2 linked regions of the Homo sapiens genome follow. The protein of the gene in region 2 binds, or shares a complex with, the protein of the main gene of each other region. Each region holds a gene or a part of one and is shown on either strand. Other genes may lie near its edges.

The links.
Region 1: GPKOW (region 2) and SNRPF share a complex: the UniProt entries of both Homo sapiens proteins name them as parts of the minor spliceosome.

The regions. Positions count from the first base shown.
Region 1 is NC_000012.12:95,856,834-95,860,433, forward strand, and holds the start of SNRPF (small nuclear ribonucleoprotein F), read left to right. Parts: upstream 1-2,118; 5' UTR 2,119-2,240; coding exon 2,241-2,243; intron 2,244-3,600. UniProt on the Homo sapiens protein: Plays a role in pre-mRNA splicing as a core component of the spliceosomal U1, U2, U4 and U5 small nuclear ribonucleoproteins (snRNPs), the building blocks of the spliceosome.
Region 2 is NC_000023.11:49,116,951-49,120,899, reverse strand, and holds part of GPKOW (G-patch domain and KOW motifs-containing protein), read left to right. Parts: intron 1-1,085; coding exon 1,086-1,195; intron 1,196-3,089; coding exon 3,090-3,303; intron 3,304-3,737; coding exon 3,738-3,870; intron 3,871-3,949. UniProt on the Homo sapiens protein: RNA-binding protein involved in pre-mRNA splicing. As a component of the minor spliceosome, involved in the splicing of U12-type introns in pre-mRNAs.

The sequences.
Region 1 (3,600 bases), on a different chromosome or scaffold from region 2:
GGACAACACAGCGAGACCCTATCTCTACAAAAAAAATTAAAAAATTAGCTGGGTGTGGTGGCACATGCCTGTGGTCCCAGCTACTCGGGAGGCTGAAGTGGGAGGATCTCTTGAGCCCAAGAGGTCAAGGCTGCAGTAAGCCAAGATCTCACCTCTACAATCCAGCCTGGGTGACAGAATGAGACCCTGTCTCAAATTAAAAAAAAAATTTAACATGAAAAGAAAAACCAACCTTAAATACACTATCTTTACAGAATGTGTTTACTGTAGTATTTCGTTTCACTTCACTGAGAAAACAGCTAAAGAGTCAGGCTTCTAAAACACATATTGAGTCTTTGAAAGGTAGCTTCATGAAGTAGAAAAAGCAGAGTTTTGAAACCCAGGTATGTGGTCCTGAGCAAGCTATGAGGCAGAAGAATAGCGGCTGGAAGCAGGGAACCTAGGGCCCATCCATGCTGACTGGGTATCAGAGGCTACTCCCATTTCAACCCCTCCTTTTTCTGCGTGGCAGTTGAAAAATGAAAGTACCTCTTATTGGTCCCCTCCCGCAACCAATCAGACTGGTTGTGGGCCAATGGGCAACCTCTAGAGGGTATTTAAAGCCCAGAAAATTCTATAACCAATGCTCTTGAGCCGCTTGCACCAGGCGGTGCCCACCCTGTAGAGTGTACTTTCATTTAAAATAAATCTCTGCTTTCGCTGCCCTGCTTTGTTTGTGCGTTTTGTCCAATTCTTTGTTGAAAACGCCAAGAACTCGGACAGCTACCCTCAACTGGTAACAGTTACCTGCTGGGCCTACTTCCTCATCTCTTAAACGGGGCTGTCACCCCGAATCAGACAGTAAGGTAAGATTTCCACGATTGTTGAAAAAGCCTGACACATAGTAGGAACTCAAAGTCTATACAAAGACTTAAAGTTCATAAAACAATAGACAAACGGAGAAATCCACTGAAGTTTAGGGTGAATAAATCTAATAACTGTTTGGTAAAAACTACACTGACAATCATTGTCTGGTCAGTGTTCAACATTTACGTGAAACACTGAGCTTTTACAAGGCCAAGCCCCGTTTTACGTTAAATTCTCGCAACCACCCTGAGGATGGTTCCGTTTTTAAAGCCGCGTTCCTGCCGAGGAAACAATGGCCCTCGGGGTTAAGACACTGCCCAACACCGGCCGCGCCTGATAGACGCAGGTTCCGAATGCAGGCCCCCTCCAAAGTCTTGCCCACTGCTCCACAATGCCTCAACACCCAACATTTCATCCTCAACTCCAAATCCATCTCTTCAGGGCCGCAAAAAAGCGTTACTTCCCAAAGGGCGTGTTCTCCAAGAACTGCATTTAGCATTTCAGATCAGAGTGACCCGAACTCAATAGGATTACGACAAAAACTAGTGAGATTCAGATAACACCGTTACATCGAAAGTTTTAATCCGTGACAGAGGAAATATTGCTTACGCCCTTAGGTAATTTCAAATGCACGTATGAAGGCCGTGCGGGTTTCTGCAGGCGAAGCAAAAGAAAGGTGGGGCCGGCAGGGTCGTGGGGCGGGGGTGGGGCATGACACCGTATCCCAGACGCAACTCGACCTCGTTTGCAAGAAATTCTGTATCCAACTCTCTTCAGTGCGTTTCGCCGCCCCTAGTCTAGTCTGGCTAGCCCCCAATTCCTTTAAAAGGGGTTAAAACGGGTGTTGCAGAAGAGAGAACACTCAGGTAGAAAGGGCCTGCGGCAGAGGCGCCCCCAAATCATGGAACCTGTTGGAAGAGTGAGGAAGGAACTCTGGGACCCCGAACATTCTCACGGGTGTAAAAAGACAAAGTAAATCCCCATTAGCCAAGTTGGGGAGAAGTCACATCCGTTACACAGCCTCTCCCAGACCGCCCTCTAGGAAGGACACCACATTTAAAAACACCGGCCTGCCTCCAGTCCTTGGCTGCCTCACAGCGATGCTCAGAGCCGGTTTCCCAAGGTCCGCGCGCCGCCTGCAAGGCGCAAACCCAAGCCGCTGCTGGTTGCTAGGAGATACTGGGCCAGCCATCTCCTCCAATCAGCACGCACCTCTTTGCGTCCAATCACAGAGGCAGGAAGGGCCGTGGTGGGAGGTGAAAGGTCATAGTCCTGTTTGGCGGCCATTTCTCTTGAAACTGCGGCTCGGGACCTGCGGTACCTGCTGTAGTCACGAGGGACGGGCGGCGGCCTGGTCGGCAGAGAGTAGCCTGCAACATTCGGCCGTGGTTACGATGGTAAGGAGAAAGAGAACGGCGGGAGAAGCGGGGAGAAAGAGAAGGAGGGAGACCAGCCTCGCGGGGCCTGCTGGTTCCTTCGCGCGTTTCCCATTCATCCGCGTGAGGCGCCGCGCACCCTGTCGCCAGCTCCTTTCACTCTGCTTTTAGGTTTCTGAGGCGCGTGCTCCTCCCGATGCCTTTCTTTTCCTAGGAGTGCCCGTGCCTTCTTCTCTTTGTTTGAATCCGGGCCTGGGGTATTCTTAGTTGGGGCTATAGGGTCGGGGTAAAAGTCAAAGAGAATTTGCACTTCCCACTTAACCACACTCCAGAATTCACTTTCATTCCGTGAAAGTAATGATACGGCCATGCTCTAGATTAACTCACTTGGGTGGGGAAGACAGACATTAGTCAAAAAATAACAAGTATGTAATTGCAAATAATAAGTGCTAAGAACAATGCAGACAGGAGGCTGTGAGGGTGCGCGTTAGACATTAGAGGCTTAGTCAGAGATGGCCTCCCTAGGAGGTGGAATTTAACTCGAAGCCTAAGTGTCATGAAATACGACCCTTTAAAGAGCAGGAGGAGGAGTGTACCGAGCACAGGGAATAGGAGCATAAGACCTGCGGCCGGAAAGAAAGCTTGGTCATTTGGAGAAATTGACAGAAAGGTATAGCCACTTGCGCGAATAGTGGTTAAGAGATGGTATCGGAGGAGCAGGCGTTGGGCAGGACCTCTTAGGCTGTATTGGGAGGTTTTGATTGTACTCCAAATCAATTTAAAATGATTCGGTTGGAAGCCATTGGATCATTTTAAGCAGAAATATGACAATCTGATGTGCACTTTAAAAAATCATAGTTACTGTGGTGGATAACAAATTGGAGAATGAAAACTGGAGACCCATTAGGTTATTGGAGTAATCGCCATATCAAGATCACTCCGAATATGCTCATGTTAGAGGGGGTTAGTAGCCAAGTTTCTTAGTTCTCTTCTTTGTTTGACTGGTGAGTGAGCAGAAGAGGGCAAAAACCGAAATCACTGGAGATGTTAATGGTTTGCTGAATAAATAGACATTAAGTAATTGCTGTAAGTAAGAGGCGGTGCTACTGACAAAGTCAGATAGGACCTAGCCCTAGCTTCCCCAGTTAAATACTGTCAAGCGTGATCTGCCCTCTGCTTCCTTCTGTAGTTTTATATTTGGGGCTTTGACTGACAATGCTGAATTGTATGTCCCCAAAACCACCTTGTTGCATCACTCTTCCCTCCTTTTACATAAGTAGCTAGCCTTGCCTGGAACAGCATTTTTTCCCGCTCTGGAAATAAACTCTTATCCTTTAAAACTGAGGTATTACTTATTTCAGGCAACCTTTCCTTTTTC
Region 2 (3,949 bases):
CTGAGGTCAGGAGTTCAAGACCAGCCTGGCCAACATGGCGAAACCCCATCACTAGTAAAAATACAAAAATTAGCTGGGCATGGTGGCACGTGCCTGTAATCACAGCTACTCGGGAGGCTGAGGCAGGAGAATCGCTTGAACCCAGGAGACTGAGGTTGCAGTGAGCTGAGATCATGCAACTGCACTCCAGCCTGGGCAACACAGCAAGACTTCATCTCAAGAAAAAAAAAAAAGAAAACCTTGGAGTCATCCTCAATTCCTCTCTTTATTTCGTGCCCCATACAATATGCCAGCACAATCCTATCATCTTTTTTCAAAATGACACCCAGAACTGACCACTTCTCACCACCACCAATACCACTGCAAAGGGCTGAGCCACCAGCATCTCTCATCTGGACTATTAGAGTAATTTCCTCACTGGTCCCTCTTGTGGCTCCCACCTGGCTCAAGGTCCTCTGACTCCTGCCCAGCTCTCCTGATTTGGTCTCTTCCCCACCCTTCTCTGCTGTCTACTCTCACTCTCTCCATTTCAGTCATGGTGACTTTCATGATACCCCTCACACATACCAAGCCTTGTCCGGCCTCAGGGCCTTTGCTGTTACTATGCTTTCAGCTTGGGACACTTTCTTCTCATATCCTCATGGCTCCCTCTGCTGTCATCTCCTGATCTCTGCTTAAATGTCAACCCAGTGGCACTCCCTCTCCATCCCTCTGCATCTTCTTACCCTGTTTTCTTGTTCTTTACATCACCACCTGACATATCATGTTTTCTGGGTTTTATTTATAGTATGTCTCCACAACTAGATCAGAAGCTCTGCAGGGGTAGGGGTTTTTGTCTGTTTGGTTCACAGCTTCATCCCCAGTACCTAGAACAGTACTTGCCATAGACAAGGTGCTTTATATTTGTTGAAGGACTGAACATGGAGGAGTACAGTGAGGGATGGAAAGAGGAAATCAAAACTCACCCTTGAGCTGATTGGAAAAGACGCGTAGCAGGTCTCCCAGTGGGGGGCAGCAAGTGCACTTCAAATAGAAGACCCAGTGTAAGCAAAGCCTGACCCTCCTTCCTCTACCTGAACCTGTAGGTGCCAGAGGAGGCTAATTATGAGGCGGTCCCCGTGGAGGCCTATGGGCTGGCCATGCTGCGGGGCATGGGCTGGAAACCTGGCGAGGGCATCGGCCGCACCTTCAATCAGTGAGTTCTGGGATAGGGTCGAGGGGACAGACAGATCATCAGGCTGCAATCAAGATCCCCAGGGTCACTGCCAAACCAGAACCACCTAGGCAGGGAGGGAGGATACATTATCGCCCTAACTAATTCAGCAGCCCCTTCCACTACTGTTTTAAACTCCCATTTGCCCTTTGAAACTCTAATAGAATCCCATTTATATAAAGTTTGCCTCTAGGGACATCAATTTCCTCATCTGAAAAATGGGGGTAATAGTACTGACTTCATAGGTCTGTTGTGAGAGTTAAATGAAATTATACACATAGGCCAGGTAGTGGCTCATGCCTGTAATCCCAGCACTTTCGGAGACTGAGGCAGGAGGATCACTTAACTCCAGGAGTTTGAGACTGGCCTGGGCAACATAGGGAGGCCCCATCTCTACAAAAGATTAATTAATTTTAAGAAAAGAAATTAGGGCCGGGTGTGGTGGCTCACACATATAATCCCAGCACTTTGGGAGGCTGAGGTGGGTGGATCACGAGGTCAGGAGATCGAGACCATCCTGGCTAACACGGTGAAAGCCCATCTCTACTAAAAAAAAAAATACAAAAAATTAGCCGGGCATGGTGGCGGGTGCCTGTAGTCCCAGCTACTCAGGAGGCTGAGGCAGGAGAATGGCGTGAACCTGGGAGGCGGAGCTTGCAGTGAGCCGAAATTGCACCACTGCATTCCAGCCTGGGTGACAGTGAGACTCCGTCTCAAAAAAAAAAAAAAAAAGGAAAAGGAAAAGAAATTATATACATAAAGCACATACAGTAGGCCCTGACCCCAAGAAAGCGTAGACTAAACATTTGCTATTGTCATGCAGACTTGCAACCCTTTCTTCACAATTGCAAACTCAATAATTCTGAAAACCAAACATTTTTTCATAACCCATTGGCAGCCAAATATGACCTGAATTGGCGTTTTTTTTTTTTTTTTTTTTTTTTTTTTGAGATGGAGTCTCTGTCTGTCACCCAGGCTGGGATGCAGTGGCGCAATCTCGGCTCGCTGCGACCTCTACCTCCTGAGTTCAAGTGATTGTCCTGCCTCAGCCTCCTGAGTAGCTGGGATTACAGGCATGCACCAGCATGCCTGGTTAATTTTTGTATTTTTAGTAGAGATGGGGTTTCCCCATGTTGACCAGGCTGGTCTTGAACTCCTGACCTTAGGTGATCTACCAACCTCGGTCTCCCAAAGTGCTGGGATTACAGGCATGAGCCACCATGCCCAACCATGTTGAGTATTTATAATCCGGTTTCTCCTGCTCGGTGTGAATGTTCATATGATTTCCCCTGTAGAAATAGTATATTTGGTTACAGCGATCTGCCTCTGATCTCACTGTAGATATTATGTAATAGATGGTATATGCAGCATGTTATTAGGTTGAACCAAATGAAATTGCTGTTTCTGTAGGTCAAAAACAGTCCTAATATGAGATCAGAAAGGGCAACCTTGAAAATATTGGTGGGGGCTGGACACGGTGGCTCACACCTGTAATCTCAGCACTTTGGGAGGCCAAAGAGGACGGATCACCTGAGGTCAGGAGTTCAAGACCGGCCTGACCAACATGGTGAAACCCTGTCTCTACTAAAAATACAAAAATTAGCCGGGCATGGTGGCATGCGCCTGTAACCCCAGCAACTCGGGAGGCTGAGGCAGGAGAATCCCTTGAACCTGGGAGGTGGAGGTTGCATTGAGTCGAGATCGAGCCATTGTACTCCAGCCTGGATGACAAGAGCAAAACTCCATCTCCAAAAAAAAAGAAAAGAAAAGAAAATGTCAATGGGGCGGGTGGGGCGGGTTTGGGCAGGAAGAGGAAGTAAATAAGGTGTTGAAGACTGTTGCATCCTCTCCAACAAACCCATATTCCTCCCTGCAGAGTAGTGAAGCCCCGTGTCAACTCACTGAGGCCCAAGGGGTTAGGGCTGGGTGCCAACCTGACCGAGGCCCAGGCCTTGACCCCCACTGGCCCCTCCCGCATGCCAAGACCAGATGAGGAGCAAGAGAAAGATAAGGAAGATCAGCCTCAAGGGCTGGTGCCTGGAGGAGCTGTGGTGGTTCTTTCTGGCCCTCACCGAGGCCTCTATGGGAAGGTAAGGAACCAAGATATCCCGGGAGCCCAAAACAGGCAGCAGGGAAGGTTGATCCGAGGGTCAGATGGAGGAATAATTGGATTTGAGGTAGAAAGGCTGGGACTCCTAGTCTTTTAGGTCTGCTTGGCCCACTGCCTCACTCAGTAACCCAGGACCACTTGCTGGCCTTTGTGAGCCTCAGTTCCCAGCTAAAAGGAAGAGAATGCCATATGCCACAAGTCCCTGAAGATTAAATGCTTAAAGGATCCAAGGAAGCCCCACAGTCAGCTGAGGGAGACACAGGAACCAGACCTGGTCCCACTTCTCAGGGGTCAGAGTCTGGTTGGGGAGACAGAGGAAGCAGGCCTCTTAGAGGTAAGGGGTTGACATCTTGGTCCTAGGAATGTGGGTGGAGTCCACAACCCCTACCTGACTTCTTCCCCTCAACACTTTAGGTGGAAGGCCTTGATCCTGACAATGTTCGGGCCATGGTTCGTCTGGCTGTGGGGAGCCGGGTGGTGACTGTTAGTGAGTACTACCTGCGGCCTGTCTCCCAGCAGGAGTTTGACAAGAACACCTTGGATCTCAGTGAGTGAGCCTCTTGTAGAGCTAGGGGAGTTGGCAACGCATTCCTAGGGGTGGCAGGGCCTGGCTAATGGGGTGGTTT